Linked DNA regions of Homo sapiens. The protein of the gene in region 4 purifies or fractionates together with the protein of the main gene of each other region. This does not show direct contact. Each region holds a gene or a part of one and is shown on either strand. Other genes may lie near its edges.

Evidence for each region.
Region 1: the proteins of FKBP15 (region 4) and DPEP1 purify together in Homo sapiens (co-immunoprecipitation; one large-scale study listed by IntAct). This does not show direct contact.
Region 2: the proteins of FKBP15 (region 4) and ARHGEF1 fractionate together in Homo sapiens (co-fractionation; one large-scale study listed by BioGRID). This does not show direct contact.
Region 3: the proteins of FKBP15 (region 4) and ARHGEF2 fractionate together in Homo sapiens (co-fractionation; one large-scale study listed by BioGRID). This does not show direct contact.
Region 5: the proteins of FKBP15 (region 4) and NAP1L4 fractionate together in Homo sapiens (co-fractionation; one large-scale study listed by BioGRID). This does not show direct contact.
Region 6: the proteins of FKBP15 (region 4) and TTBK2 purify together in Homo sapiens (affinity purification with mass spectrometry, with the first as the bait; one study listed by BioGRID). This does not show direct contact.

Annotation. Positions count from the first base shown.
Region 1 is NC_000016.10:89,616,083-89,620,886, reverse strand, and holds part of DPEP1 (dipeptidase 1 isoform a precursor), read right to left. Parts: intron 4,003-4,804; exon of another isoform or gene 3,973-4,002; intron 844-3,972; exon of another isoform or gene 650-843; intron 291-649; exon of another isoform or gene 111-290; intron 1-110. UniProt on the Homo sapiens protein: Hydrolyzes a wide range of dipeptides including the conversion of leukotriene D4 to leukotriene E4. Hydrolyzes cystinyl-bis-glycine (cys-bis-gly) formed during glutathione degradation.
Region 2 is NC_000019.10:41,888,832-41,893,635, reverse strand, and holds part of ARHGEF1 (rho guanine nucleotide exchange factor 1), read right to left. Parts: coding exon 4,771-4,804; intron 1,612-4,770; coding exon 1,513-1,611; intron 1,306-1,512; coding exon 1,263-1,305; intron 1,034-1,262; coding exon 787-1,033; intron 363-786; coding exon 333-362; intron 1-332. UniProt on the Homo sapiens protein: Seems to play a role in the regulation of RhoA GTPase by guanine nucleotide-binding alpha-12 (GNA12) and alpha-13 (GNA13) subunits. Acts as a GTPase-activating protein (GAP) for GNA12 and GNA13, and as guanine nucleotide exchange factor (GEF) for RhoA GTPase.
Region 3 is NC_000001.11:155,956,744-155,961,547, forward strand, and holds part of ARHGEF2 (rho guanine nucleotide exchange factor 2), read right to left. Parts: intron 1,654-4,804; coding exon 1,577-1,653; intron 1,140-1,576; coding exon 970-1,139; intron 1-969. UniProt on the Homo sapiens protein: Activates Rho-GTPases by promoting the exchange of GDP for GTP.
Region 4 is NC_000009.12:113,165,200-113,170,003, forward strand, and holds part of FKBP15 (FK506-binding protein 15), read right to left. Parts: intron 4,744-4,804; coding exon 4,025-4,743; intron 3,358-4,024; coding exon 3,261-3,357; intron 957-3,260; coding exon 879-956; 3' UTR 1-878. UniProt on the Homo sapiens protein: May be involved in the cytoskeletal organization of neuronal growth cones. Seems to be inactive as a PPIase. Involved in the transport of early endosomes at the level of transition between microfilament-based and microtubule-based movement.
Region 5 is NC_000011.10:2,957,321-2,962,124, reverse strand, and holds part of NAP1L4 (nucleosome assembly protein 1-like 4), read left to right. Parts: intron 1-2,215; coding exon 2,216-2,355; intron 2,356-3,580; coding exon 3,581-3,726; intron 3,727-4,804. UniProt on the Homo sapiens protein: Acts as a histone chaperone in nucleosome assembly.
Region 6 is NC_000015.10:42,748,475-42,753,278, reverse strand, and holds part of TTBK2 (tau-tubulin kinase 2), read left to right. Parts: intron 1-31; coding exon 32-1,305; intron 1,306-4,804.

The DNA.
Region 1 (4,804 bases), on a different chromosome or scaffold from region 4:
AGAGAGGAGAGGGGCTTTCCGCCCTCATTACAGCCCTGGGCCTCAACCTGGCTGCACGCTCCCCAAAACCACAACCCCTGGCTCCCGGCTCCCCGCTCCCCGAGACTCACCATGCGCGGGACAGGGTCCCGAGTACCTCGGCTCAGCCACCCAAGTCCCAGGGAGACAGACCCGCCTCCTGCCTCCCAGGTCACAAGGCTTGGGGGTTGTTTCTGGTGTTCAAGTTCAGTCCTGCCACCCACGGAGCTCTCCAGCTACAGAACAGCCACCTCCTTGAGGGCTCGCACAGTACCCCAGGGAGAGCCGGGCTAAAGCCTCACACATGTCAGCTGGTTCTTGTTTCCGAAGATACGCATGCCCTCAGTGAGGCCTTGAGCATCCGGCCAGCCCAGGGGCTTCTGGGACTCTCGGTCCCAGGCCAGGCAGGAGAGCTTGTGCTGGGTGATCACCCTTTGAGGCCCCCCAGGCAGTAGTGTAGGGTATCTGCCTTAGGTGGCAGCAGGTTGAGAAATGGAGAGGAGGGGGCCTGGGAGCTTGGGCCCAGCCCAACGAGCCCAGAGAGTCTCAAGTGGCCTGGGGGTCCCAGGTCGTGTGTCCCCCCCACTGGCAGACCCCAGCCACCTCCCTGACTCCCTCGGAGGACACTGACCCTGGCCCCGGAGTTGGGACAAACTCCGTCCTCAGTTTCTTTATCTGTAAGTGCGATGGGTTGATCTCCCTCCATCCCCAGCCACAATCGAGGATTGGAATGTCCTCTGGCAAAGCCACACGGGCTTTCGAAATCCAAGGAGGGTCTGCGTGTGGACCGCACTGAGCTGGAGACCAGGCTGGCTTTGGAATTCTGAGGTTGCGGCGGGAGGGGGGCATACTCAGTGGGTTCAAGCAGGCGGGGGGAGGCCAGGCCTATCCCGGACCCCACCCAAGGCAGGGTGGAGACCTAGGGCTGCTGCTGGGCTAGTCACAGGGGCCCTTGGAGTCTGACATTTTCAAGCAGCCAATGATGGGCAGCAGTGGGAGGAACAGTGGGGGCTGCAGAGAGGGGAGGGGACGCAGGGGGCTGCAGAGAGGGGAGTGGGGGGCACAGGGCGCTGCAGGGAGGGGGTGCAGGGGGCTGCAGGGAGGGGAGCAGGGGGCACAGCAGGCTGCAGGGAGGGGGTGAAGGGAGTGCAGGGGGCTGCAGGGAGGGGAGCAGGGGGCAAAAGGGGTGCAGGGAGGGGAGCAGGGGGCTGCAGGGAGCTACAGGGAGGGGAGCAGAGGGAGCAGGGGGCTGCAGGGAGGGGAGCGGGGGGAGCAGGGGGACCAGGGGGCTGCAGGGAGGGGAGCGGGGGGAGCAGGGGGAAAGCGGGCTGCAGAGAGGGGAGCAGGGGGGCAGGGAGCTGCAGGGAGGGGAGCAGGGGGGCAGGGGGCTGCAGGGAGGGGAGCAGGGGGGCAGGGGGCTGCAGGGAGGGGAGCAGGGGGGCAGGGGGCTGCAGGGAGGGGAGCAGGGGGGGCAGGGGGCTGCAGGGAGGGGAGCAGGGGGGGCAGGGGGCTGCAGGGAGGGGAGCGGGGGGGCAGGGAGCTGCAGGGAGGGGAGCGGGGGGGCAGGGGGCTGCAGGGAGGGGAGCGGGGGGGCAGGGAGCTGCAGGGAGGGGAGTGGGGGGGCAGGGGGCTGCAGGGAGGGAGCAGGGAGGGCAGGGGGGCTGCAGGGAGGGGAGCGGGGGGGCAGGGAGCTGCAGGGAGGGGAGCGGGGGGGCAGGGGGCTGCAGGGAGGGGAGCAGGGGGGGCAGGGAGCTGCAGGGAGGGGAGCAGGGGGGCAGGGAGCTGCAGGGAGGGGAGCAGGGGGGGCAGGGGGCTGCAGGGAGGGGAGCAGGGGGGCAGGGAGCTGCAGGGAGGGGAGCGGGGGGGGCAGGGGGCTGCAGGGAGGGGAGCGGGGGGGCAGGGGGGCTGCAGGGAGGGGAGCAGGGGGGCAGGGAGCTGCAGGGAGGGAGCAGGGAGGGCAACCCTCCGGAAGCCAAAGGTAGAGGGTGCTGGTGGGATGTGCGTACGTAAAGAGCAAAATAAAACCAGTTTTGTGCAGGGTTCCTACCGTTCTGGTGAAAATAAAATAAATATTAATCTATAAGTTACAAAATGCGAATTGTGCAACTTTGCCCGGGGAACAGTGCAGCAATCACTTAAGCTCAGGAGTCTGAGACCAGCCGGGGCAACACAAGGAGACCTCGTCTCTACAGACATAAAGAAACTAGCCAGGCTGGTGTGTGCCTGCAGTCACAGTTACTTGGGAAGCTGAGGTGGGAAGGTTGTTGAGCCTCGGAGCTTGAGGCTGCACTCCCACCTGGGCAACATAGTGAGACCCTGTCTCAAAACTAAATGCATAAATAAATAATGTAGGCCAGACCTGGTGGTTTATGCCTGTGATCCCAGCACTTTGGGTGGCCAAGGCGGGAGGATCGCTTGAGGCCAGGAGTTTGAGACCAGCCTGGGAAACATAGGGAGACCCCCATCTCTACAAAAAATATAAAAATTAGCCAAGCGTGGTGGCACACACTTGTGGTCTTGGCTACATAGCAGACCGAGGCAGGAAGATGGCTTGAGTCCAGGAGGTTTAAGCTACAGTGAGCCGTGATCCTACCACTGCACTCCAGCCCGGGTGACAGAGCAAGACCTTGTCAAGATGGATAAACAAACTAATAAATTAATTAAAATAAAAATGTGAATTGTACAATTTTGTTGATTCTGTATGAGTTAAATCCTATTCTATTTGCATTTAAGCCAAGTATTACACAATATGAAGATAAATGGTAAATACATGCTAATAATTTAAAATTTTAATTTTTCTTGACTTAGAATGATGATTTTTTATTTTTATTTTTTTATATTTTTTGAGACTGAGTCTCGCTCTGTCGCCCAGGATGGAGTGCAGGGGCACAATCTCAGCTCACTGCAACCTCCGTCTCCCAGGTTCAAGTGATTCTTGTGCCTCAGCCTCCCGAGTAGCTGGGATTACAGGTGCATGCCACCACACACAGCTAATTTTTGTATTTTTAGTAGAGATGGGGTTTCACCATGTTGGCCAGGCTAGTCTCAAACTCCTGACCTCAAATGATCTGCCCGTCTTGGCCTCCCACAGCGCTGGGATTACAGGTGTGAGCCACTGCGCCCGGCCTCCCAAAGTGCTGGGATTACAGGTGTGAGCCACCGTGCCCAACCTCCCAAAGTGCTGGGATTACAGGTGTGAGCCGCCGCGCCCGGCCTCCCAAAGTGCTGGGATTACAGGTGTGAGCCGCCGCGCCCGGCCTCCCAAAGTGCTGGGATTACAGGTGTGAGCCGCCGCGCCCGGCCGCCTTCCAGCATTTCTGGCACAGACCGGCACAGGTGTGGGCTCCTGTCCTTTGCATGTTGTTGGCTTTCTGTTGACCAGATGGCCTGGAGACCTCCTGGCGTGGATGCTTCCACCTCATTCTCTGTAACATGTGCGCAAGCCTCAGAGCTCATGTTAGCTGAGCAATTCTTCCATGCAGGCACCGTGCTGAGGGAGCTCCTGTGGCCTCGTGAGGCAGGAGCGCTTTTCCCCTCACCTCTCAGGGCCCTGGGCCTTGGTGCCTGCCTACCTCTCCCACCTCCACCCAGCTCAGCCGTGAGTCTTCATGCAGTGTCCTCAGGGCATCACATGAGAGCCCCAAGCACCCCATCTCTCTGCCACTCCCTCTCCCTTGTTCTAGCTCCACCCTGTCTTGATTCCTGGCAATTCTAATAAGAGAGAATTGTCCCCAACCCTGGCCAAGCAATTCCCTGACATGTAATGACCTGTGCTACCCTCACCTTGCTCGGGTGGGGCCAGACCTTCACTGCAGTCCCATCACCCCACCCCTCCCTTCCCCTTCTGCTCCAGGGCCTGCCCAGGACCTCCAGCCTCCCGCCCCATTCTCTGCCAGACTCCATCATCCCCTCTGGAGCCGTCACGCCGCTCGGTAAAACCTGCCCGCTTCCTACCCGCTTCCTGGCCGCTCTCTGCCTGCTTCCCGGCCGCTTCCTGCCCACTTCCTGCCTGCTTCCTGGCCACTTCCTGTCCGCTTCCTGGCCACTTCCTGGCCGCTTTCTGCCTGCTTCCTGCCCACTTCCTGCCTGCTTCCTGGCCGCTTCCTGGTCGCTCTCTGCCTGCTTCCCAGCCACTTCCTGCCAGCGTGCGTTTGCACTGCCCTTCGCGGAGTGTGCTGAGGGGAGAAGGCCCAGCCGTCCCAATCTGCGCTACTTTGAATTCCTGATCACAAACTTCAAGGAACCTCTTTAAGCCACCCGGGAATCCTGCTGCAGGTCCCAGTGCCAGAACCAGAAGCATCTGTGCCATCTGGGAACATTCTGGTGGAGCAATCGCCCTGTCCTCGAGGTCGGCCATACACGCTGGGTCTTCACCACCCCGGGGATGCAGATGCCTCCTGGCGACCCCCTCCTCCATCCAAGGACCCCTCCCGGCACAGCCCCGAGCACACCCGCTGTCTCCCCTCCTTTCCGCCCGTCTGTCCGATCCTCTCACAGCTGGCTGGGCCATACTGCTCTGTGAAACTGTGCCCGGTCAGCCCCGGAGTGGGTGACCCAGGACCCGCTGGCTGTGTCCTTCCAGGGCACAGGTCCCAGCCTCTCCTGTTTCGTCGACACTGGCTACCTGTGTGGGCTTGTCTGTTTCTGGGCTCTGAGCCCTATCCCCACAGCACTGACTCCCCCACCCACCTGAACCCCCAGCCCAGCCCCCGAAGCCCCACGGACCCAGCCTCCTGCTGCGCACCCCAGCTGGAGTTCAGGGAGCATTTTAAATTCACTTTTTGTG
Region 2 (4,804 bases), on a different chromosome or scaffold from region 4:
AGGCCCCCAGCCCCCTCCTCCCTCAGACCCAGGCGTCCAGGCCCCCAGCCCCCTCCTCCCTCAGACCCAGGCGTCCAGGACCCCAGCCCCCTCCTCCCTCAGACCCAGGCGTCCAGGCCCCCCAGCCCCCTCCTCCCTCAGACCCAGGCGTCCAGGCCCCCCAGCCCCCTCCTCCCTCAGACCCAGGCGTCTAGGCCCCCCAGCCCCCTCCTCCCTCAGACCCAGGCGTCCAGGCCCCCCAGCCTCCTCCTCCCTCAGACCCAGGAGTCCAGGCCCTCAGCCCCCTCCTCCCTCAAACCCAGGAGGCCGCACGCCTCCCCTGCCCCCCTCACCTCTTTTCTTCGTCGGTAGAGATGGTATGTCTGTAGGAGGAAGAGAGATGTTTGTGACATATTTGCTAGGCCTGGGGTCCCCATCCACCCAGGATACATCTCAGGGTTGCTGTCCTGGGATAGGCAGGGGGAAGAGAGACAGAGAGGGGACACTGTGGAAGGGATTGGGAAGGACTGTCATAAGAGGGAGGGAGGTCTCTCATCCAGGAGGATGGGATCCAAGTGCCAGATCATGGACAAGACCCAGAAATGACAAGGGAACCCCAAAGCTGGAAAGGGAAGACTCGGATTCAAGGTGAGTTAAAACACCAGGGTAGAGGAAGACCCCCAGTGCCAAGAAATGAACTCTGACCCTGAAGAGGGAACCTGCAAACGGGATGGAACATGCCAGAGGTAGCACGGGTGCCCTTGTGCTGGGGAGGGGCGACGCTCCCACCAGGGCTGGCCTACTCACTGCATCTCCTCCAGGTGCATGAGCAGCCGCTCCGCCACGTGCCGCTCCCGGGCCTCGTAGCTGGCTCGGTCCCGCCCAACCCAAGCCTCCAGCTGGGCCAGCTCCTGCTCCCAGGGCGTCATGCCCATGAGCCGCTTGGAACGGAAGTCCTCCAGCTGCCGGCCCACGGCTACCTGCTGGCTTTGCACCACCTCCTGCACGAACCGCCGCTGGACATCCTCGGAGATGAGGTCAGCCCTAGTGCGGTCTGCAGGGACACACATGGGGGCTAGGGTCCAGCTCCCTGGTGGCTTGGACCACGGTCCCCACCCACCCTTGGACTCCAACAGCCACACGTCCTGAGGCCGCTGCCAAGAAGGAATGAATGAATCTCGGCTGTCCGAGCAGAGCATGGGAGTGCGGCCTCCCTCCCCTTGGCCTCCTGGGAGGTGTGGTCCCCGCTAGACACCTCTCCCTCATCCCATCCTTCTCCTTACCAAGTTCAAAGGCGACGTTGGGAGGGACCGGCACCCGGAGAACCTGCTCAAGAGAGAGAATGGGGTGAAGAGGAGGACTTGGTGTGCTGAGATGCAGGCCGGGAGGACTGCCAGGAACCCTGGTCTAAGCGAGGGTGCTGGGGAAGGCCTGGGTCAGCAGCTGCCCTCAGGGCAGAGGCTGGGGACCGCATGGTGACTCTGCAGGCCCAAACAGGGATTGCAGGGTTGGGGCAGCTTGAAGGTCTCTCACCGCTGTCTTCTCCAGGAAGCTGTGGTAGAAGTCCAGGAAGGCCTTCTTGGCCTCCTTGGGGCCCAGTGAGCCCAGCATGTCGGCATGCAGACAGCAAAGCTGGGGGAGACACACAGCATGACTCTCCGCTCCCTCACCCTGCCTCAAACCACACTCTCCCTTTGAAAAGGGCCTTCCTCACCTCCTGGCCATCCTATGGCTGTGGGACTCAACTGCCACTTCCTCTGGGAAGCACTCCCTGACCTCCACCCCTAAAGCCAGGCCCTGGGTTCCCCTGCAGGCTCCCTGGGGCTGCCATGAGCATTTTCTAATTTTCCATCCTGTGCTATGGTCCTTTGTGGTTCTTCATCATGGTCTCCTCCCGGCAATAATGACAACAACTACTACTACTGTCTATACTGACGGCTTAGTGTATACCAGACACGGCTCTACACCCTCTACATGCATTAACGTGTTCAATCATAGGGACCGTCATTATCCCCATTTTACAGATGAGAAAACGGAGCTCAAGAAGTTTAGTCAAGCTTAGTCGCACAACTAGGCTAGGCACAGTGGCTCACACCTGTAATCCCAGCACTTTGGGAGGCCAAGGCAGGTGGATCACATGAGGTCAGGAATTTGTGACCGGCCAGGCCAACATGGCGAAACCCTGTCTCTACTAAAAATAAAAAAATTAGTCGGGTGTGGTGGTGGGCACCTGTGATCCCAGCTACTCGGGAGGCTGAGGCAGGGAGAACTGCTTGAACCCAGGAGATGGAGGTTGCAGTGAGTGGAGATTGTGCCACTGCACTCCAGCCTGGGTGACACAGAGCGAGACTGTTTCATAAATAAATAAATAAATAAAACCCAAAATCACATAGCTACTAAGTGGCAAAGTTAGGATTCGAATCCAGGCAGCCTGTCTCTACTACACTCCACTGCCTGGAAAGACTGTGAGCAGCTTAAGGGTTTGTGTGTGTTGAGGGGTGTTGTAGGTTGATCCATCTGTGTCCCAGATGGTGGTGCCTTGTGCATACTGAGGGCTTGGAAAGAACAGGTGGACAAGTGGGGCTCACTCTGTCATTCGTCAAGCATTTCCTGAGTGCCCGCCCCTGTTCTGGGTGACAGTGGGGACTCCAACCTGTCCTGGCTCCTGGGGGCTCTCATCTGGGAAATGAACTCACTCCAATGGGAGTGGGACTTTTTCTCCTTTTTCTTTTTTGAGATGGAGTCTCGCTCTGTCACCCAGGCTGGAGTGCAGTGGCGTGATCTCGGCTCACTGCAACCTCCTCCTGGGTTCAAGCGATTCTCCTGCCTCAGCCTCTGGAGTAGCTTGGATTACAGGTGCCTACCACCAGGCCTGGCTAATTTTTTTTTTTTTTTTCCGCCTAGGCTGGAGTGCAATGGTGCAATCTCGGCTCATTGCAACCACCACCTCCCAGGTTCAAGTGAGTCTCCTGCCTCAGCCTCCCGAGTAGCTGGAATTACAGGTGTGTACCACTGTGCCTGGCTAATTTTTCTATTTTAGTAGAGATGGGATTTCACCATGTTGGCCAGGCTGGTCTTGAACTCCTGACGTCGGGTGATCCACCTGCCTCAGCCTCCCAAAGTGCTGGGATTATATGCGTGAGTCACTGCGCCTGGCCAATTTTCATATTTTTAGTAGAGACGGGGTTTTACCATGTTGGCCACGCTGGTCTCGAACTCTTGATCTCAAGTGATCTACCCACCTCAGCCTCCAAAGTTCTGGGATTATAGGTGTGAGCCACCATGCCCGGCCCCACTTTTTTTTTTTTTTCAAGACAGGGTTTCACTCTTGTCGCCCAGGCTGGAGTGCAGTGGTGCAATCACTGCAGCCTCAACCTCCCAGGCTCAAGCTATCCTCCTGCCTCAGCCTCCCAAAGCGTTGGGACTACAGTCATGAACCACCAGGCCCGGTCCTCCTTCTCCACTTTAAACAGTTTTAACACATCTATATCCACTCTTCACACCCCCCAAATATAGCAAAATTCTAAGACAGGCCAACAGGAAGCTGCCCAGGGGACCACAGCTATCTCTGATCGGCTCCCCACAAGCTGATGAGGTGAGGGAGCTATGCGAGAATAAACCTCAAAATGCCCAGAGGCCGCCGGGGTCACCTCAGGCAAGTCCCTGACCCTCTCTAGGCCTCGGTTTCCACATCTGTAAAAGAACATGGTAGTCAGCACGATCCCTGGGCTGATGTCCACAATCTGGTGTTCTAGAAACCCCAAGGCTTGAATAGGGGACTCCCTTGCTCAGAGGGCCAGAGTCTCCGTGCATGTGGTTGTCGGGGGAACCACTCTTCTGGAAAGAGAATGTAGACAGGGGAAAGACTGCAATTTCCTAATTTTCTGCATATCTGATGGTTTGGCGTCCGGATGACCAGCCTCTGGTCTTGCAGCTGACATGTTCTTCTTTCTGCATGCCTCGGGCACTTCTCCCCACTCTATCGGTTTCCTTGTTTTCTGGAGGGGTCCACTATGCATGTCCACATGGTGCAGTGCCCTGGCTGTCCCCAGGCTGTCCTCCTATCCTGTGCTGGGCTGGACGGGGTCTTCTTGGGATGAGACCCTTGTCTACAGATCCCCTGCCAGCCAGCACTGTGGCCTCTCCCTTTCTAAATCACCTGCTGGGTTTTCTAGACTCTGCGGGTGTTTCTGGATGGCACGGTTGTCCATCCACATCTCCCAGGTATCTTCTGCCTCATCCGGAGGCTTCTGGATCCACAATTGTGTGGTCTGCCTTGTGAGCTGTGTGTGGTGGTTTTCTTGTTTCCAGATCAGGGCCTGCTGTGCTCCCTAGACCTGGGATGGCTAACAGCTTCTTTTTCCCAACCATCAACCGTGAATGACTGCGTGCTGGCATCTGCCAAAAAGGCTTTGGAGAGAAGAATTTGGTCCCCTAGAGTTCACGGAAAGGTGCTGCCACAGGCTGATGGGGGCGCTGCCACAGGCACAGAGTGGGATGGGATGTGGTTTCTGCCAGGCTGCTGGACTCTCTGTGGCTCCGCGGGGTCCTGACGTGTGTACCCTGCCCGCTGCGCACTGAGATCTACCCTGGGCACTTGTAAGCCTGTTGAGGTCACGTGGCATGCTTTCTGGCTCTTGTCTAAAGCATTCTCTCTTTCTAGATCTGGCTCTCTGTGTTCTAGATCTGCTTTTCCAGACCCTCCAGGCACTAGCTCGCTGGTTTAATTCGCTAAAAGCTGTGCCTGTCCCAGCCCCACCCCTCCCTGTGCCCACCCAGCCCTGCCCTCACCAGGGGTCCTGGCTCAAACTGCAGGGCCACGTGC
Region 3 (4,804 bases), on a different chromosome or scaffold from region 4:
TCAAGATATCAAGACCATCCTGGCCAACATGGTAAAACCCCGTCTCTACTAAAAATACAAAAATTAGCTGGGCATGGTGGCGTGAGCCTGTAGTCCCAGCTACTCAGGAGGCTGAGGCAGCCCGGCAACAGAGACTCTGTCTCCAAAAAAAAAAAAAAAAAAAAAAAATTTGCCTGGGGTCGTGGTGGGCACCTGTAGTCCCAGCTATTTGGGAGGCTGAGGCAGGAGAATCGCTTGAATCCAGGAGGTGGAGGTTGCAGTGAGCTGAGAGCGAGACTCTGTCTCAAAAAAAATTAAAAAAAAAAAAGAAAGAAAACCTGTAAAAATCTGAATTAGAATTACACTTACACTTCATTCTTTAGGCATAATCTTCCAGAATCCATTTTAAACATCTTACCTGTGCTTTATTTGATGTTTTTTCCCATCACAATTAGACACATAGTTGACTGCCTCAAATCTAATGTGTGTCCAATAGAAGCTAAAGATTTGCTGCTTTGACACACTGATTTCCTTCTTGCTTCTATTGTGTTGAGTCTGTTTATGAGACTTGTTCCTCTCTAGTATCGATGCTTTCATTATCCTCTTTTTCATTCATTTTTAGAAAAATAAATGTAAAATACAATACAATCCAAATAACAGCCCTCTGCCTACAGATGAACATGTGAATGCAGCTGAAATTGTACTGTTGGCTGGCAGGTATGCCACCATGTGACAGCTCAAAGTATTCCCTTGCTTGTCAGCTCATGCTGAATTTGAAAGGGAGTTGAGGTTGGCAATGTATAAAATGTGGCTTTACAGGACATAAGAACATAGGTGACCTTTCCAGTCTTGGGCCATTTTGTCTCTCCCTCAACCTCTTCCCCCACCTCTGAATGCTGGATTCTGTTCCCAGGGAGTTCTATGGTTGGGATCTAATGCTGCAGGTACCCTGAGGTCATAAGCACATGCAGGCGGCAGGCAGACACTCACGTGCGCACGCTCTGCTGAATGACCCGGATCCAGGTGCTCCGGTCATCCCGGGATGCTGTGTGCACCTCGTACATCTCAGGTGGGGCTGCGCTGATCAGAAACATCCCTTTCTCCTGGTTGGCAATGTCTCGTACGATTAGATTCTGCAGCGATACCACTGAAGGCTTGTCCTGCCAGTCAGGGGAAAGGAAGGATTAAGCCTGGGAATCCTGTCCCTTGGCATATTTAGGCCTTCAATCCTTCTGGACGAGGACTGAAAGGACTGAAGAGTCATCTTACAATACCAGTTAAGAGCCAGGCACTGGTGCCAGCCAGAAGGGACTTAGAAATGTGTGCAACCCTTGACAAATTATTTAACTGACTTGAAGCTTTACTTTCATCATCTATAAAATGAGGACGAAAATAATCTTTTCCCACAGGTGTAAAAGTGCCTGTGCACAGTAACAGTACCTGTGAGCTGCTCTTATTTTTTATTATTACGGTAATAGTAACAATTATAGCTGTTTGACTCTGGGGGACTCCAGAGCTCTCGTGGGCTTGGGCAGGAAAGCAAGAAGAGACTAAAACACTTGTCTGTGCTGAGAAAGGTGAAGAATGAATGTCTCACCAGGGTAGGAAAGATGTACTTCTGGTCCTTTTCCTGGAGAAACACCAGTACATCTGTCATCAGCAGCACTAGCACATCTGGAAGGGGATGAAGGTGGGAGAACAGTCAGCACTAGACGGTCTGAGCAGCTGCTTCCCTCTTTCCCAAGGACCAGGCTTATCCCATCAGGTTAGAGCTCCCAGTTTCCCTCTTCCTGGCCTCTCTTCCCTCTGGCTGCTTGCACTTTTTCAGACCTCTCACACCTCACCCATTCTATTTTTTTTTTTTTTTTTTGATACAGAGTTTTCATCTTGTTGTTCAGGCTGGAGTGCAATGGTGCAATCTTGGCTCACTGCAACCTCCGCCTCCCGGGTTCAAGCGATTCTCCTACCTCAGCCTCCCAAGGAGCTGGGACTACTACAGGCGTGTGCCACCATGCCCGGCTAATTTTGTATTTTTAGTAGAGACGGGGTTTCACCATGTTGGTCAGGCTGGTCTCAAACTCCTGACCTCAGGTTTATCCACCAGTTTCGGCCTCCCAAAGTGCTGGGATTACAGATATGAGCCACCGCGCCTGGTCACACATTCTTACAGCTTAAAAACAGTGTGGGTGGGGGGTGGGGGGCGGGCAGGGTGCAGAAAGATTCATGTGCTATCAGACAAAACAGCGTTGTGGGCTAGCAGGAACCACAGGGATCACTCAGTGTCTACAGAAAACCCTTTCTACCTGACTGATTCAGGTTTCTTAACCTAGGGCCTACAGACCCCCTGGGATGTCAGGCTTCAGTGGCTCTGTAAACCTTCTGAAGGTGTGTAAATAGTTTTACATATTAACATAACTCGTGTATTTTTTTGGGTGACAGGGTCCAAGATTTTTGTGAGATTCATAAGGTTCCCCAGAGCAAGAGGGACCATACTTTTATTTTTTATTTATTTTTAATTTAATTTGATTCTATTATTATTTTTTTGAGACGGAGTCTCACTCTGTCGCCTAGGCTGGAGTGCAGTGGTGCCATCTTGGCTCACTGCAACTTCTGTCTCCCAGGAAAAAGCGATTCTCCTGCCTCAGCCTCCTGAGCAGCTGGGATTAAGGAGCACGCCACAACACCTGGCTAATTTTTTGCATTTTTGTAGAGACGGGGTTTCACCACGTTGGCCAGGCTGGTCTCTAACTCCTGACCTCAAGTAATCTGCCTGCCTTGGCCTGCCGAAGTGCTGGGATTACAGGCATCAGCCACTGCGCCTGGCCTATTTTTTATTTTTTGGGACCAAGTATCGCTCTGTCGCCCTGGCTGGAGGGCAGTGGTGTGATCTCTGCTCACTGTGACCTCTGCCTCCTGAGTTCAAGCGATTCTCATGCCTCAGCCTCCCAAGTAGCTGTGGCTACAGGTGAATGCTGCCATGCCTGGCTAATTTTTGTATTTTTAGTAGAGATGGGGTTTCACCATCTTGGCCAGGCTGGTCTCGAATTCCGGACCTCAGGCGATCTGCCTGCCTGATTCAGCCTCCCAAAGTGCTGAGATTATAGGGATGAGCCACCGTGCCCAGCCTGGACCACATTTTTTAGCCTTTAAATTCCATTTCTAATATCTAACTAAGGAAGACCTTTACGGCTATCTGACCTAAATTCTCCCTGTCCTGGCATATTCCCACTTCTAATTTTGAGCTTGGTAGGGAGGGAGAAAGTTTCCTTCCTCTCGCAGAGGACTGAAAGACCATCCCTCACCCACCCATCTCCTTCAACCCCAGCAGGCCCCTGCTTCAATTTCTTTCTCTGCTTCACACTCCAAGCTCTCAGATCCTATGGGGTCAGCACTCCAAGACTGAGGGAGGAAACAAAGATCAATTCCATAAAACTTGGATGTCACAATCAAGAAAACAGAGGGCGAGGCATAGTGGCTCACATTTACAATCCCAGCACTTTGGGAGGCTGAGGCAGGAGAATCACTTGAGGCCAGGAGTCTGAGCAAGACTAGCCTAGGCAACATAGCAAGATCTTATCTCTACAAAAAATTTAAAAATGTGCTGGGTGTGGTGGTGCAGGTCTGTAGTCCCAGTTACTCAGGAGTCTAAGGCAGAAGGATCACTTGAGCCCAGGAGTTTGAGTTACAGTGAGCTATGACTGCACCACTGCACCCCAGCCTGAGCAGCAAAGCGAGACCCTGTTTCTAAAAAAAAAAAAAAAGAGAGAGAAAACATACACTCCTCCTTTGCCCTTGGGGATTTTACTAAACTGTGGGCACACAGAAGGGGAGGGCTTTTGCTAAATGCTTCAGAAATAACACTCTCCAGCCTTGCTATTTTTAATCCCCCATGGTTTATATTCTTAGCTGCTGCGTGGGAGAGATGGGAAGGAGAGAAAGGGATAAAGGAAAGAGGCTGGTGAAGACTGACAATATCCAAACCCAGGGAGCAGGGATTTCATGACACAGGTACAGAGGCTCAGGCAGGCTTTGGCCTCAGGTATCACAGTTTCCTATTGTCCCTCACATCTCATCCCCAAAGCCAAGGCCTGCTATTCTCTTGCTTTGATTTAGGTGAGAAAGACTTTGCCAGTGCAGACAAATTCTGGAAAGAGAGCCTGGGAAAGTGTGCCCTGGCCCCTGATCTGCTCCCTCTGCCCTGCTGTCTCTTCTCCTCCCTGCCTGTCCTTCACCGGCTCAGTCCCCTCCTCTGGGCCTCCTCTGGCTGCGCTCCCCAAAGCTCTTGCTTACTCCCATCCCTGGTAGCTGGGATTCCAGCTGGGGGAATCAACTGATCCTGTCCTCCAGTCTGAGAGCTTCTTTGTCTTCCTCAGTAAAACTAGTAGCTCTCTAGGCATGCAAGGACCAAAGAAATTATAAAATACTGATAGGGAAGGCCCTGTATGGTCCATAAAGTTAACTGCAGAATTCAGGCTTTTCTGCCACAGAGATCCTATTTTTCTCTCCCACTGAGTCTCACTGTTGTATGGGCTGCATAAAGGGAGGTTGATTCTTTTTTTTTTTTTTTTTTGAGATGGAGTCTTGCTGTGTCACCCAGGCTAGAGTGCAGTGGTGCAATCTGGGCTCACTGCAAGCTCCGCCTCCTGGGTTCACGCCATTCTCCTGCCTCAGCCTCCTGAGTAGCTGGGACTATAGGCGCCCACCACCACGCCCGGCGAATTTTTTGTATTTTCAGTAGAGACAGGGTTTCACTGTGTTAGCCAGGATGGTCTCAATCTCCTGACCTCGTGATCCGCCCGCCTCGGCCTCCCTAAGTGCTGGGATT
Region 4 (4,804 bases):
TGCCATGAACAATGGAAAGAAGGGACCCTCTCACCTTCTTTGCATGGCTTCCTAGACTGCAGGACTAAGCCTGCAGGAGCAAGAGGATGACTGGACTGGTCCTCACAGAACCATCATGCCCCAGGGATGAGCTAGGACTACAGTGGTGACTTTCTTTGAAAGCCTAAAAGTTCCAGGGTTAGGTATCAAAGGGAGTAAATATGCCACAACGTTTTGTGCACATTAACTGACCCAGATCTGTAAGACTCCTACCCTTAGATTCCCAAAAGAGCACAGACAGCCCTTGGAACCAAACTCAATTTTTCTCCAAGGGCTTGGGTCAAGTTTCATTATAGACATTTATTTTAGTTTTATTTTCAAAGTCATTGACCTCTTGTATCAGATTTAAGGCAAAGAAGAAGATACATGTCCCAGGACTATAGGCCAGGCTGTTGACTGCACTGGGATTTAGATGGTGTAATCTCCCTTAGTTCTACCAGGGAGACCTCAGCCCAGGTCTTGTTGCCGGGGCACAGTTGAGCACTGGATTCAGGTAGAGGAGGGCTCCCAGGTCAGTCTGAGAGTTAATGAAGAGATTAAAAAGTCTGGCAGAGGACAGGACTCTTACAGGTGACTGGCTTGGAGGGGAACCTACCAGTCCTTCTTCCAACTTGCTGCTGAAATCCCAGTGTTCTTGAAGACAGGGTTATGATCCTCTTCACCAGGTCTGGCGGGGGTGGGGCTCAGAAGGTGGCCAACCCACCCTCTGAGCCCAAATATTGTTCCCAGAATGCTCACCTTGACCTCACCCTGTGGTTCGCCTAGACCCAGGGTTGGCTGTGCAAAATCATGCTTAGGGAAGGGTTGCAGAGAAACCTTTGCACCAGTTTCCTGGGTCTTCATCCCAGCCAGTCAATGTCATCGTCATCATCATCATCTCCAAAAAGGGGCGTTGGGGGCGGGCGTCCCTTCATGCTCTGATAAAACAGGAAAGAGCAGTCAGTCCTCACTTGTGCCTGCACCACTGGACTTTCCACCTGTGAGTGGAAGCAATCCAACTTCTGTTCCCAGCTCTGGGTCAGAAAGGAGGTTGTACTGACAGGGCCAACTCTGAGGCCAGCAAACCTAGGCTTCCAGATAAAGCTGAGACCAGCAGGCAGAGAAGGGAGGCAGTCTTTCAACAGAGACAAAAGATGAACTTTGTTTGGCTAATCTCATCATTTATTTATGAAGCACATGTACTGATTTGACAGATTTTCCTCTCATGCAGTAACTTACACATTTTGTGTGGAGAAAGAAGGGTCAAAGAGGAAACACTGGAGCAGTAGGAAGAAACAGAAGCAAAGCAGCCCTGAGAGAGCGAGAGGAAGTGGGAAGAAGGGAGGTTGGGAAGAAGACAATCACATATGGAAAAATACTGTCGTCGTGGCCTAAGGTGGCCTGACTGGCTCTGGGTGTGATCCCATCATTTGAAAGAGTTGAATTTGGAGGCTTGGCCAACTGGAGAATCCTAAGAGGTGAAGAACACGGGGCCACAGCCTCCCACACCTCTAGCCTGACTGGCACCACCCTCGCTCCTTCCAGCTAAGGTAGTGGGGGTGAAAGGGACTGATGGGCCATGAGAGACCCTCTCTTTTCACAGCTTGAGCTCCTGGCCTTTCTCCTCTGGCTTGGCAAGGGAACAGGACCTACCCGGCTAGCAGGGATTGATGCTACAGACAGGCACGAACTGAATAGTCTCTACTAAGGCATTCTCTGCTCTGGTGAGCAACTGCCAACCAGAATCCATCTTCACAGGGCCAGGCAAAAGGGAAGGCAGCGTGATGTGTATACAAGTCTCTGGGCTAATCCCACGTCACTACCAATTAGCCAGACCTCGTACTTCTCTCTGGACATCAATGACGTGATCTCTAACTCTGACAGTATAGGATTTTCAAGTGTGGCTCACAGCTTCTGTTTTGTCCTGACTAAAGTTCTGGCTCTACATTTACTAGCTATATAAGCTTAGTTAAATTATTTAATCTTCCTGAGCCTCAGCCCTCTGATATATAAAATGGGATAAAAGTACCTACCTCATTGGATTAGTAGATTAAATGACAACATCTGTGAAGTCGTTTTCAGAGTACCCAAGAACTACATGTTAACTGGACAGTATTGGTACTAATACCAATAATATGCTCACTAATTAAAAGCTTCCAACTATATTTAGGGCAGTCACTTAGAATATACTCAATTTGGTTTTTCCCCCTTTTTTCCTTTTTTTAAGGGCAGAATTGCTATTCTGGATTCTCAAATGAAAATTTAACTCTTGAGAAGAAAGACTCATGGAAGGAACTGGTACATTCCCCAAAGGAACACAGGCAAGAGGGAAGGGCTCCGATACATGCAAGCTGGAGCATAGATCCATCACAGCTCTCTGCTCAAGGTTTTGGCAAAAGGCAAAATCCACTCTGGCTGATACATGAGGGGACAAAATTTGCCCCATTCACCCTCATATTTCTGTCCTTTAGATGGACTGAGCCTGAAGCCCACCTGTGTTCTCCATATGCATTTCAGAGCAGTCAAAATGGCCTAGGGACAGCCAGAACGGTTGTAACCTAGCACAGCGGGGAGCAGCAGAGGCGAGAACCGGGGTTCTAATTCAGTCCCTATCAGTGCCCTCCTCTCCTGGCCTTCACTCTTGTTCTGTGAAGCTATGCTATTAATACTGAACCCATTTTGTGCCCAGGGATATTGTGATGACAAAACAAGGCAGCAGGAAAGCAGGCTGAGTAAGTGGAAAATGCTCAGGAACAGGAGGTCTTTACAGGAGCCTGGGGATTAGTCCTAGCTTTGCCATTAACTCACTCTGTGGCTTTGGGTAAATCATCATTTTGAGCCTCAGGTTTTTTATCTATGAATAAGGATGCCAGGCAAGATGATCTTCAAAGTCCTTTCCAATTCTAAAATATAAATAATATCCTAGCAGATTTGGGGAAAACTAAGGCTTCAGCATTCCAATGTGGGGCTAAGCAGCTCAGCTTTCTTCCTCTGAGGGGACTAATTCCTGCATGGACAGAGACTATGATTCTTTCTCAAAAGTAAAGTGGTATGTGACCGTCCCCTACTCTGCTTACAGAGCTGCGCCCTCCCAGCCCAGCCCCAAGCCTGCTCCCACAGGGCCCTGCACACAGAGTCCAGGGAGTGGGCCACCAACAGGCTCCATTTCTCTTCTCAGAGCCAGTAGGGAAGAGCCCCCAGGTGGGTGTGTGAGGACTTGACAGTGCCTGGGATTTCCTTACCACCTCGTCTTCATCCTCCTCCTCAGGCTGTGCTTTGGGCCTCAGAGCTTTCAGAGTTGCCCCTTTAAACAGTTCATCCTCTTCATCCCCAGAGAGACTGAAGGAAAATCAAGTCATAGAAAATGTTATTGTTCCTGCTCCAGGTCACAGTACCCACCACCTACAAGGGTCACCGGCCCTTGGGTAAGAATTCAACAGCGTTGGTGACTGCTCAGGAATTCCTCCCACCTCCGCTGCCACCATCTCTTCCCACACCCTACAGTGGCCTCCTAGTGCGGTTGGCCCCCTCCAGAACCTACAGCCAGAGTCATCTTTTCAATGTGACCTTCTCAGAATCCTTCCCTAGCCACCCTATCTAAAGTGGAACAACTCCTTTAGAATAGCACCCTGTTTCTTTTTTAAAAGGACTTATCATACTTTATGATATGTAAGTATGTATTTGTTTTCTCCACTTGACTGTCACTCCTTAAACTCAAGAACCAAACCTGCCTTGCCTACCACACTATCACAGGGCCCACCACACTACCACAGTGCCCGCCACACTACCGCAGGGCCCGCCACACTACCACAGGGCCCGCCACACTACTGTAGGGCCCGCCACAGAGCCTTGTACATGGTAGGTGTTGTTGAATTAATACATCAACTAATGAATGAAGACATGAGTAAATTAGTCTCTGAGGGATGAGTTGCCAGCCCTGGAAAAAACAGAGACACTCACCACAGATAACTACCCTGTCCCTGAAGCAGTGCTCAGAGGAACATACCTGGAACGCTGGGAATGATGGCTGGGTCTGAGGGCTGCTCCTGCAACTGTGGAACCTGCCTCTGTGCTTGACAGCTCCTTGTGGGGACCGGTGGAGCTAGTGACATCATCTTTCTTGAGCTGTGGAGGCTGAGGCTCTCCTGGGCTTTCAGGCCCTAAGGCCAGTGGGTCCCCCTCCTCGGGGTCTGAAGTCAGGGACAGTCTTGTGGAGCTTTCTTGTAGTGGGCCATCTGGTGCTACTTCCCTGACACAGACCTTTCCTGATGGGTTGTCGGGCTTAGCTGCCATTGGGCTGGCAGCAAGTGACTCCTCACACTCAGAGTCCATGGATACAGGGCCTAGGGGCTCAGGTGGAATTGAAGTCGGGGGCCCTAGAACTCTGTGGGATGGGATGCAAGACAGTTCGGGTGGAAGGGAACCATCTTTTATCTCTGAGAGTGCCTCAGCTTCTGAGTCCCCTTTCCTTCTGTGTCCATCCTGGGAAGTGGTGAGGGCCTGAGGAGGCAACGGGACAGCTTCCTCGACCACCTGCTCTGAGGGCACCATGGGGGACTCTGGCCTCTCCCTATTCAGGGGTGCTTGAGGCTGCCCAGAACTGGCTGAGGCTGACTGCTCCTGGGAAGGTCTTCGTGGCCGCTCTTCTGCTTTTTCTTCTTCTTCTTCACTGCTGCTCTCTTCCTTCTCTTGCTCCTGTTGGTTTAACAGCTGAAGAGTCACCATCTATTCAAAAGCCAAGGAAGAGATGGTCACTGAAAGGAACACAGTAGCCACTCCTAATTCT
Region 5 (4,804 bases), on a different chromosome or scaffold from region 4:
GGCCCAAAGGTCGTTCAGTTGGGATTACAGACATGAGCCACTCAGGCCCTGCCTAATTTTGCATTTCTTTAGTTGCTTGTAAGATTGAGCATGGTTAGCATATTTATGGCTTACCTGGCTGTAGTGCGTGTGTGAATGAAGCAGTCTTATTTTCAAGCCACTTTTCATTTGGGCAGCTAAACAGTTTCTTGAATCATCTTCAGTTGTCTTTGGGTTACTCTTGACTGAACAAAGGCAGAGGGGAGAGAAAAAAGGAAAATAGGAAGAAACATGAATCTATCTATAGAAAAGTAGGCTGGGTGTGGTAGCTCATGCCTGTAATCCCAGCACTTTAGGAGGCCAAGGTGGGAGGATTGCTTGACCCCAGGAGTTCAAGACCAGCCTGGGCAACATAGGGAGAACTGGTCTTTAAAAGAGAAAGTAAAAAGGAGGGGAAAAAATGAGTAGGACATGGTGAAGGACCACAAGTCTAATAGTACTATTTGTTTTATTGGGGCCACCCCATGCCCTGGGTTGGTTGTCCACACTGTGGTCACAGCCTTAAACAGTTCTGGAATCATAGCAGTCTCTCCATTGGTTGGCTACTTGTCTTCCCTCTTTATGTTGGTTTTTTTTTTTTTTTTAAGCCGTGGAGGGTTGGGAGAGAAATAGGCATTTTATTTGATGCTGATTCCCTGTAGCTGCCTCTTCCTTTCCTTGTGATTTTTGCCAGGCAGGTGACTGGCCTTTCGTTTGTGTGGTTCATCTGCAGTGCCCTACCCGCTTCCTTTGCTCTTGCCAAGGCCAGTGGAGAGCTCCTAGCCAGATCCTGCTGTCATCCCTTCTAGAAACCGACTAGACTGTCTCCCTGATCCTGACTTCCTAAGCCCTCATGCCCCGCCTCCTCCTCCACCTTTCTTTGAAAGTTGTTTTTTCACTTCTCCTTTGTGCAAGTGGTTTGTTTGAATGTATAAACTTTTTTTGCTGTATATTTTTTTTAGTCCTCTTAATTTCCCCCCCGTTGATGGTTTTACCATTACAATGAAAATGGAAACAGCTGACATTTAGCCAGCCTTGCCTATAAACGCGGCTCTAAGTGATACAGATTAACCACCAAGGCAGCTCCTAGAGAGGGAGAGAGTTATTTCCAGTGTAGAGATGAGGAAACTAAAGCACGGAGACATTGAGTAGCTTCCGCGAGTTGCCTAGCAGTGTAGGCAGAGATGGGATTTGAATCCAGGCTGTCTGAGCGTAGAACTGGTCTTGTAAACTGTCTATAAATTACTCAACCAAGCGCATCTTCCATGTTTTTCTTCTATAAATAGGGATGAGGTCAATGTCTTTGCACATATCGATGCATCCATCCAGGTATTTTTCTCAAATAGAACAAATTCCTCAAAATAGAATTACTGAGTCAGGGAATATGCCTTTTAATTTAATTTTTTTTGATATTGCCAAATTGTCCTTCATAAAATCTGTCGACAGTACATGAGTGTGCTCAGTACCCCAAAATCCTGGCCGGGTCTACATATTTTTGTACATTTTGCCCCAAAGAAAGGCATCTCATTTTGGTGTTCATGTGTTTTGTTACTCGTGAGCATGAATGCCTTGTTGCTGCTGTTGGTTGTTCTATGCCTGCGTTCATGTTTGCATCCTTTTTCCCGGTGTGCTCACGTCTCTTCCAGGTCTGTAGCGTGCTTTGTAAGTGAGGGATGAGCTTTCTGTCCTTGTAGAGATTTGTCCTTTTCTCCCACCCACCTCCCGGGAGAAAAGCTGTGGGTCACTGCTTTCACTGCACAGCACAGAGTAGAGACCCTGGCTTCCCCCAGCAGGGTGGGGGCTGGGGCTTAGGCTGAGCGGAAAAGGACAGGAGGAGGATGGACTGCTGGTCCCCTTACTTTCCCCTAGTCACCTTCCCTCCTTCCAGGAAGCAAGGGCTGGGAGCAGCTAAGAGAAGCTAGGATTTCTTAGGAGAGCTTGACGCCTATTGGTGAGGAGGCATTGGAGGGGGAACATGCCCCTTACTCATGAACTGAACAGATATTTCCCGCCAGTCCATCGTTGGTTTTTTTAACCTCACGCTAGTCTTTTTTGCGGTGGAGAAGTTTTTCTTGTTCATGGCCCTATCTGTTGAGCTTTCCCAAAATAGCTTCTAGTAAGTGTTGTGTACTCCAAGCAATCTGTCCTCGTTATTTTTCTATTTTAACTGGTGCTTACTCTGAATTTCTACTTTTAGTCTTTTGTGTTAGAGTTCCACTTTGAACCCAACGACTACTTTACCAACTCAGTCCTGACAAAAACCTACAAGATGAAATCAGAACCAGATAAGGCTGATCCCTTTTCCTTTGAAGGTCCTGAGATTGTGGACTGTGACGGGTAAGAAAATGTCATTCTACCTTGTTTTTCTGAAACAAAATCAAAAGATAATTTTGTAACTTGATGGGTAAGATAGAAGTAAGGAATAAAGTACAGTCTTGAGTCTGCTTAAAAGCCTAAAAGCCTGGTAGATGTATATTTCAATAGTCTTTCAGTTTGGGAATGCTCATAGTGCAGAACTTGGAGATGGCGGCTGAACCTGGGAAATGAGTCACGTGGTTGCACATGCAAGCCTTTGGGATAGTGCCCTGTTTCTTCATTTTAATGAAAGTAGTGGATTCTCTAGACATCGTGAATTGAAGTTCTTAAAATTGAATCCATGGATTACCCTCAGCAAATAAATACTTATTGAATGAATGAGTCTGAGTCCAGGGCTATATTGATCAGCTGATTGCTTTGGAAATAGGTGGGGGCAGCATAGCTGTTGTTTGACTCACTGATTTCAGTCTTTATAAATCACTAAAGAGAGAATTTGGTTTAGAATTAATTTCTCCAGGTTGGGTTGACTGAGAAATGGTTTTAGTCTTGACTTGAAACAATTACGTTTATTTACCAGAAGTAAATAGTAATTGTTAATTCAGGACTTTATTAAAATCCTGCTAGAGTAATTTAGAAAGATGATTTTCCAGGGCCAGGACATCATGTGAGAAAAAGGCCTGGCCTTACCAAGCATGTTCTTAAGCGGGCAGTATTGAGATCTGCCAGGTGTTGCCTGGGTCTGTGGTGATTGTGTGTTAGAGAGAGCGTGCTGTGCTCAGCCCTCGCCAGCATCCCTGGGGCTGGAGTGGTCTGCACTGGCCATCAGTATTCCCGGTGGCCACCTCTTTCCTTTTTTCAGCTTGTCGTGCTCAGTTGGCTGCTTTGAACAGCAGCAACTCCTCCTTCCTTGGGAAACCGCGGACAAGTTCTTGTGCATCATGCAGACTTGACGGGGCTTTGCCACAGAATATACATTTCAGAGTCCTGATGAAATGTCTTGGGAAAATAATACCATTGTTCCAGAAGTCTGAAGTTCCAGTGGTCACACCCAAGTTGAAAGAGGACCAGGCTGTTTCTCTTTTTGCCAACCTCCAGATGAACTTCATGGGCCATTGTATTTGGTTTGCAGATTGGTTTTATTTCGTTTTCCAGGTTTGGCATAGAGCTGTGGTTTGCTTCCTGCATGCATTTGTAATGGATTTTTCTCATGGATTGTGTGTTCCTGACAGCTGTCTTGTCCTGGTAGGTGTACTATTGACTGGAAGAAAGGAAAGAATGTTACTGTCAAAACCATCAAGAAAAAGCAGAAGCATAAGGGTCGAGGCACTGTTAGAACAATTACGAAACAAGTACCCAATGAGTCCTTTTTCAACTTCTTCAATCCATTGAAAGGCAAGTCTGTTGGTTGTTAATATTCATTATGTTCTTATATAAAATAATTTTGGTCACCTGATAGATTCCTAACACCCAGAGACTTTAGTCCTCTTTTTTCAGGCAAGTGTGGTCAGTAGGGGCACATTGCTGTGTCCCAGGCTGTTCTGTTGGTGCGCTGGCAAGTTTATCGCGGGGGGCAGAGGTAGCTAGGACAGTAAGAGTAGGATTGTCATCTTCTGCAGGAAAGGGAAGAGCTTTACTCTGCTTGGCTGTAGCCCAGGCAAAAACTTGCAGTTCTGTTTTAAGAAAACTGAATCGAGTATTTGCACCTGGGCTGCTTCCTCACTTGGACACCTGGAGCACCCTTCTCCACCAGCTGGCATTTCTGCCCCGCTGTTGTGTCTGGTTCGCACCCCCCGGGGACCACTCCCAGCCTCGGAGAGCTGCTGGGTTTGCTCTGCAGGTACCCGTTACTGCTGTACGCTGGTTCTAGTTGTGCTGCTTTTGGATCATCTGCTTAGTCCCCCTTTTCTTGTAATTTTTTATGCATAATTTGATAGAATTTTTTGGAATTTATATATTGTAAGAAACACAAGTAGTTGGGACTTTCATTTTTGAAAAACATCGGCAGAATCACAGCTTGGAAGCTGCTTCTTTTTGTTTATTTATTTATTTTTTAAATTTTCCTAAGTGGTAAAATAAAGATGAGACCTTTGAGCTAGTAAAGGTTGACCAATTGATTTTAAGAGTAAATTTCTTGGGATTTTTCATATAATTTCCTAATCGCGAGAAAATGTGAAGGTCAAGCAACTTGTCAGTGTTAAAATATCCATATTCTCTTTAGTTTCCATGAACTAAAACATAATTTGAAGTGAAGAGATGCCAGCCCCTGCTGCAGATAATCAGTGAGTGTTTGTTTGTATGTGGGGCCACAGGGCGGATCTCTTCTCCAGTCTGAGTGATTGATTTTTTGATTTTGTCTCTGAGCTTAGCACCCTTATTTATCAAGCTGCCCTTCAGAGTTCAGTCCATTATTTTAATTGTGGTGCCTATTTTCTGCAATTAGACTTTGAACCTAGAAGATGCAAATACATAC
Region 6 (4,804 bases), on a different chromosome or scaffold from region 4:
TGCATTTTAATTTTTTCTTCCCCTTCTCCAGATTACAATTCCTAGACCTTCTGTGGCATCTACACAGTCAACTTCAGGAAGCTTTCACTGTGGTCAGCAGCCAGAGAAGAAAGATCTTCAGCCCATGGAGCCCACTGTGGAACTTTACTCTCCAAGGGAAAACTTCTCTGGCTTGGTTGTGACAGAGGGTGAACCTCCTAGTGGAGGAAGCAGAACAGATTTGGGGCTTCAGATAGATCACATTGGTCATGACATGTTACCCAACATTAGAGAAAGTAACAAATCTCAAGACCTGGGACCAAAAGAACTTCCTGATCATAATAGACTGGTTGTGAGAGAATTTGAAAATCTCCCTGGGGAAACTGAAGAGAAAAGCATCCTTTTAGAGTCAGATAATGAAGATGAGAAGTTAAGTAGAGGGCAGCATTGTATTGAGATCTCCTCTCTCCCAGGAGATTTGGTAATTGTGGAAAAGGATCACTCAGCTACTACTGAACCTCTTGATGTGACAAAAACACAGACTTTTAGTGTGGTGCCAAATCAAGACAAAAATAATGAGATAATGAAGCTTCTGACAGTTGGAACTTCAGAAATTTCTTCCAGAGACATTGACCCACATGTTGAAGGTCAGATAGGCCAAGTGGCAGAAATGCAAAAAAATAAGATATCTAAGGATGATGACATCATGAGTGAAGACTTGCCAGGTCATCAAGGAGACCTCTCTACTTTTTTGCACCAAGAGGGCAAGAGAGAGAAAATCACCCCTAGAAATGGAGAACTATTTCATTGTGTTTCAGAGAATGAACATGGTGCCCCAACCCGGAAGGATATGGTTAGGTCATCCTTTGTAACTAGACACAGCCGAATCCCTGTTTTAGCACAAGAGATAGACTCAACTTTGGAATCATCCTCTCCAGTTTCTGCAAAAGAAAAGCTCCTCCAAAAGAAAGCCTATCAGCCAGACCTAGTCAAGCTTCTGGTGGAAAAAAGACAATTCAAGTCCTTCCTTGGCGACCTCTCAAGTGCCTCTGATAAATTGCTAGAGGAGAAACTAGCTACTGTTCCTGCTCCCTTTTGTGAGGAGGAAGTGCTCACTCCCTTTTCAAGACTGACAGTAGATTCTCACCTGAGTAGGTCAGCTGAAGATAGCTTTCTGTCACCCATCATCTCCCAGTCTAGAAAGAGCAAAATTCCAAGGCCAGTTTCATGGGTCAACACAGATCAGGTCAATAGCTCAACTTCGTCTCAGTTCTTTCCTCGGCCACCACCAGGAAAGCCACCCACGAGGCCTGGAGTAGAAGCCAGGTAATGCTGTGTGCTCTCCCTGTGTTAAGTGTGTAACACCATTTCTATATCTGCTTTATTGTAGTCCACCAATGGCAACATTTCTGTGTTGCCCCCTTCTCAGTATCTTTCTTTCCTGCCTTTCCCAGGCCTTACAGCCTAGTGCAGTAGAAGTAATCAGATTTTTTCCAATTTATTGCGGTAAAATACACATAACATAAAATTTAGCATCTTTTGTTTCGTTTGTTTTTGAGACAGAGTCTCGCTCTGTCACGCAGGCTGGAGTGGAGTGACTCAATCTCAGCTCACTGCAACCTCTGCATCCCGGGTTCAAGAGATTCTCTTCTGCCTCAGCTACCCAAGTAGCTAGGATTACAGGCACCTGCCACCACACCAGGTTATTTTATTTTATTTTTTTAAACTAGAGACAGGGTTTCGCTATGTTGGGCAGGCTGGTCTCAAACTCCTGGCCCCAAGTGATCCACCTGCCTTGGCCTCCCAAAGTGCTGGGATTACAGGCTTGAGCCACTGTGCCCAGCTGTATCTTAATCATTTTTAAGTGTACAGTTCAGTGGTAGTAAGTACATTCACATTGTTGTGTTACACTTAATATTCTAAAGTTATAACACTTTCATTTGGATTTATATCAGCTTAACTTCAATATCATGCAGAAACTGCTCCTTTCAGTCTCCATCCCCACTCCTTTCAGCTGTTGATGTTACAAAATTACATCTTTATACATTGTGTGTTCAAACACATAAACTAATAATTTTTAAAATGCATTAATCTCTTAAATTATGTAAAAAACAAAATGTGGAATTTTAACTGTCCATGTGTTTGCCTTTATTAAGATCTTTATTTATTCATATGGCTTCAAGTTCCTGTGTGGCGCCCTTTCATTTCAACCTACAGGACTCCCTTTAGCATTTCTTGCAAGACAGGTCTGGTGGTAACAAACTCCCTTAGCTTTTATCTGAGAATGTCTTAATTACTGCCTCATTTTTGAAGGACAGTTTTGCCAGATATAGGATTCTTAGTTGACATTTCTTTTAGTATTTTAAAAGAAGTACTTTAAAGTACTAAAGTACTTCCAGCCTCAATGTTTCTGATGAGAAGTGTTCTGATAATTTTTTTGAGAATCTCAAGATTCTCTGTCTTTGTCTTTTGACAGTTTAATTATAATGTGTCTCATTGTGGGTCTCTGAGTTCATCCTACTTCGAGTTTGTTGAGCTTCTGGGATGTTGTATATTCATGTCTCTTATGACTTTTGGGGAGTTTGCAGGCTTTTTTTCTTTTTTTTAAGTATTCTCTCTGCCTCTTTCTCTTTTCTCCTTCTGGAACTCCCACAATGTGCATGCAAGTCTGCTTGATGGCCCCACAGGCCCTTTATTGTCTGTTTACTTTTCTTTACTCCTTTTTTTTTCTGTACCTCAGACTCAATACTTTCCATTGTCCTGTCTTCAAGTTTGCTGATTTTTTCTTCTGCCTGCTCAAATCTGCTCTCGAATCCATCTAGTGAATTTTTTATTTTAGTGATTGTACTTTTTAGTTCCAAATTTTTTTTGGTTCTTGTTAGGTTTTCTGTCTCTTATTTATATTTCCATTTTGTTCATACATTGTTTTCTTGACTTTCTCCGTGTCTTTCTTTAGTTTTTCAAGCATCCTTAAGAGAGTTGTTTCAAAGTCTTTGTCTAGTAGCTTTGCTATCAGGTCTTTTTCAGGTACAATTTCTGTTGATACATTTTTTTCTCCTTGGAATGGACCATCCTTTCCTGTTTCTGTGTAAGTTTTTTTATTTTTTTTGTTGAAAATTGGATATTTGAATCTAATAATGTGGTAACTCTGAAAATAAGATTTTCCCCTTTCTTCGGGATTTGCTGTGGGTTGTTTTTGTTTCTTTTTATTTTTGAGACAGGATCTCACTCTGTCACCCAGGCTGGAGTGCAGTGGAATAATCATGACTTATTGCAGCCTCTAACTCCTGGGCTCAAGTGATCCTCCTGCCTCAGCCTCCTGAGTATCTGGAACTACAGGTGCATGCCAGCACACCTAGCTAATTTGTTTGTTTGTTTTTTTGATGGTTGTAGACTGTCTCTGTGCTGAGGACCAGCCTGAGATGTAAACCTAAGGTCTCAGACCTTTTCTAAGCCTGTACTTTTTCCTGACTAAGCATAGTAGCTTTCTGATTTCCCCAGTATATGTGGTTGGTTTTGAATATACAAGTCTTTAATATCTGGCTCCGAAGAAGGGAAAAAAGAAAAATGAGGGAAGAAGAAAAAAGAGGACTGGCCCTTTTAATCCCCTAGCAGTCACTTCAGCCAGAGGAGAACCAGTTTGTAACAATGGGGAAAAATGTAAGAGTTACTACCTACCTCTTTCTCTGCTCTTCTGTGATCAGAAGCAGCAATGAGTAATCAGAGCACAGATCCCCAGTAATTGGAGGACAGGGTTCTTTTTGCCCACCTGGTTCTTGTAAGCTGTGTGCACACTGCTCCAGAAATAAGTGCACAGCTGCCTGCCATGGGGCCGGGAATGGGGGATGGGTAGCTGTTAACTGTGCTAAGATCTGAAATAGACTAAAATTAACTGTAATTGACAGTCCAAGCCTTCTCCTGGAAGTTGCAAGCCTTTGGTAGACTCCAGATTTCCAAGATAATTACATCAGACAGATTCTGCCAGTGCAGTTGCCTAGGTGGGGAGACAGATTCCTAGTGCTTCCTACTCTACTGTCTTCCCAGAATCTTCTCTGATCCAGGTTAATTTTTGGCTCTCCCACTTTCTAGCAGTAAGAACCTCCATTTCCTCATCTACGGAGTGGGCAAAATATTTGCTTAATAGTTTTGGGAGAATGAAACAAAGCCACAATCATCTAGGAGTTGGTACATTGCTTAGCATGTAATAAAGATTATGTCTGTCTCCAGTTGCATTTTGATGATCAGCAATTTTCTAGCTTTGTTCAGTCAGAATCCCATTATGTCCCATAATGCCATTATGATGTCAAATGCTAGTGAAGAATACGTTGTCCATGATTTGATAAATGGACCCTGGTAACAGTGCTGTTTATCTTGATTATAATGAATTAAACCAAAAAAATCCTATAGATTTCCCTAGGTCTGATGGTATATACAACCATACATAGTAAAGATACTGCTTTAGTATATACTGCATGCTATACTTTTTATTTAAATATTATCTTGATATATTTGACCACAGAATGTTTATATTTTGAGGAAGAGGGGAAAATATTGGGAGGTGGTAAACCAGTGAAGAGTGCTTTCCAGGGCCAAATGTGGTGGCTCACACCTGTAATCCCAGCACTTTGGGAGGCTGAGGCAGGCAGATTGCTTGAGCTCAGGAGTTTGAGACCAGCCTGGGCAACATGGTGAAACCTCATCTCTACAAGAATTAGCCAGGCACGGGTGCTACACAGCTGTATTCCCAGCTACTTGGGAGGCTGAGGTGGGAGGATCCTTCTATGAGTTGTTGTCTGTCTTCATGTCAAAACATTCTATTGGGTTA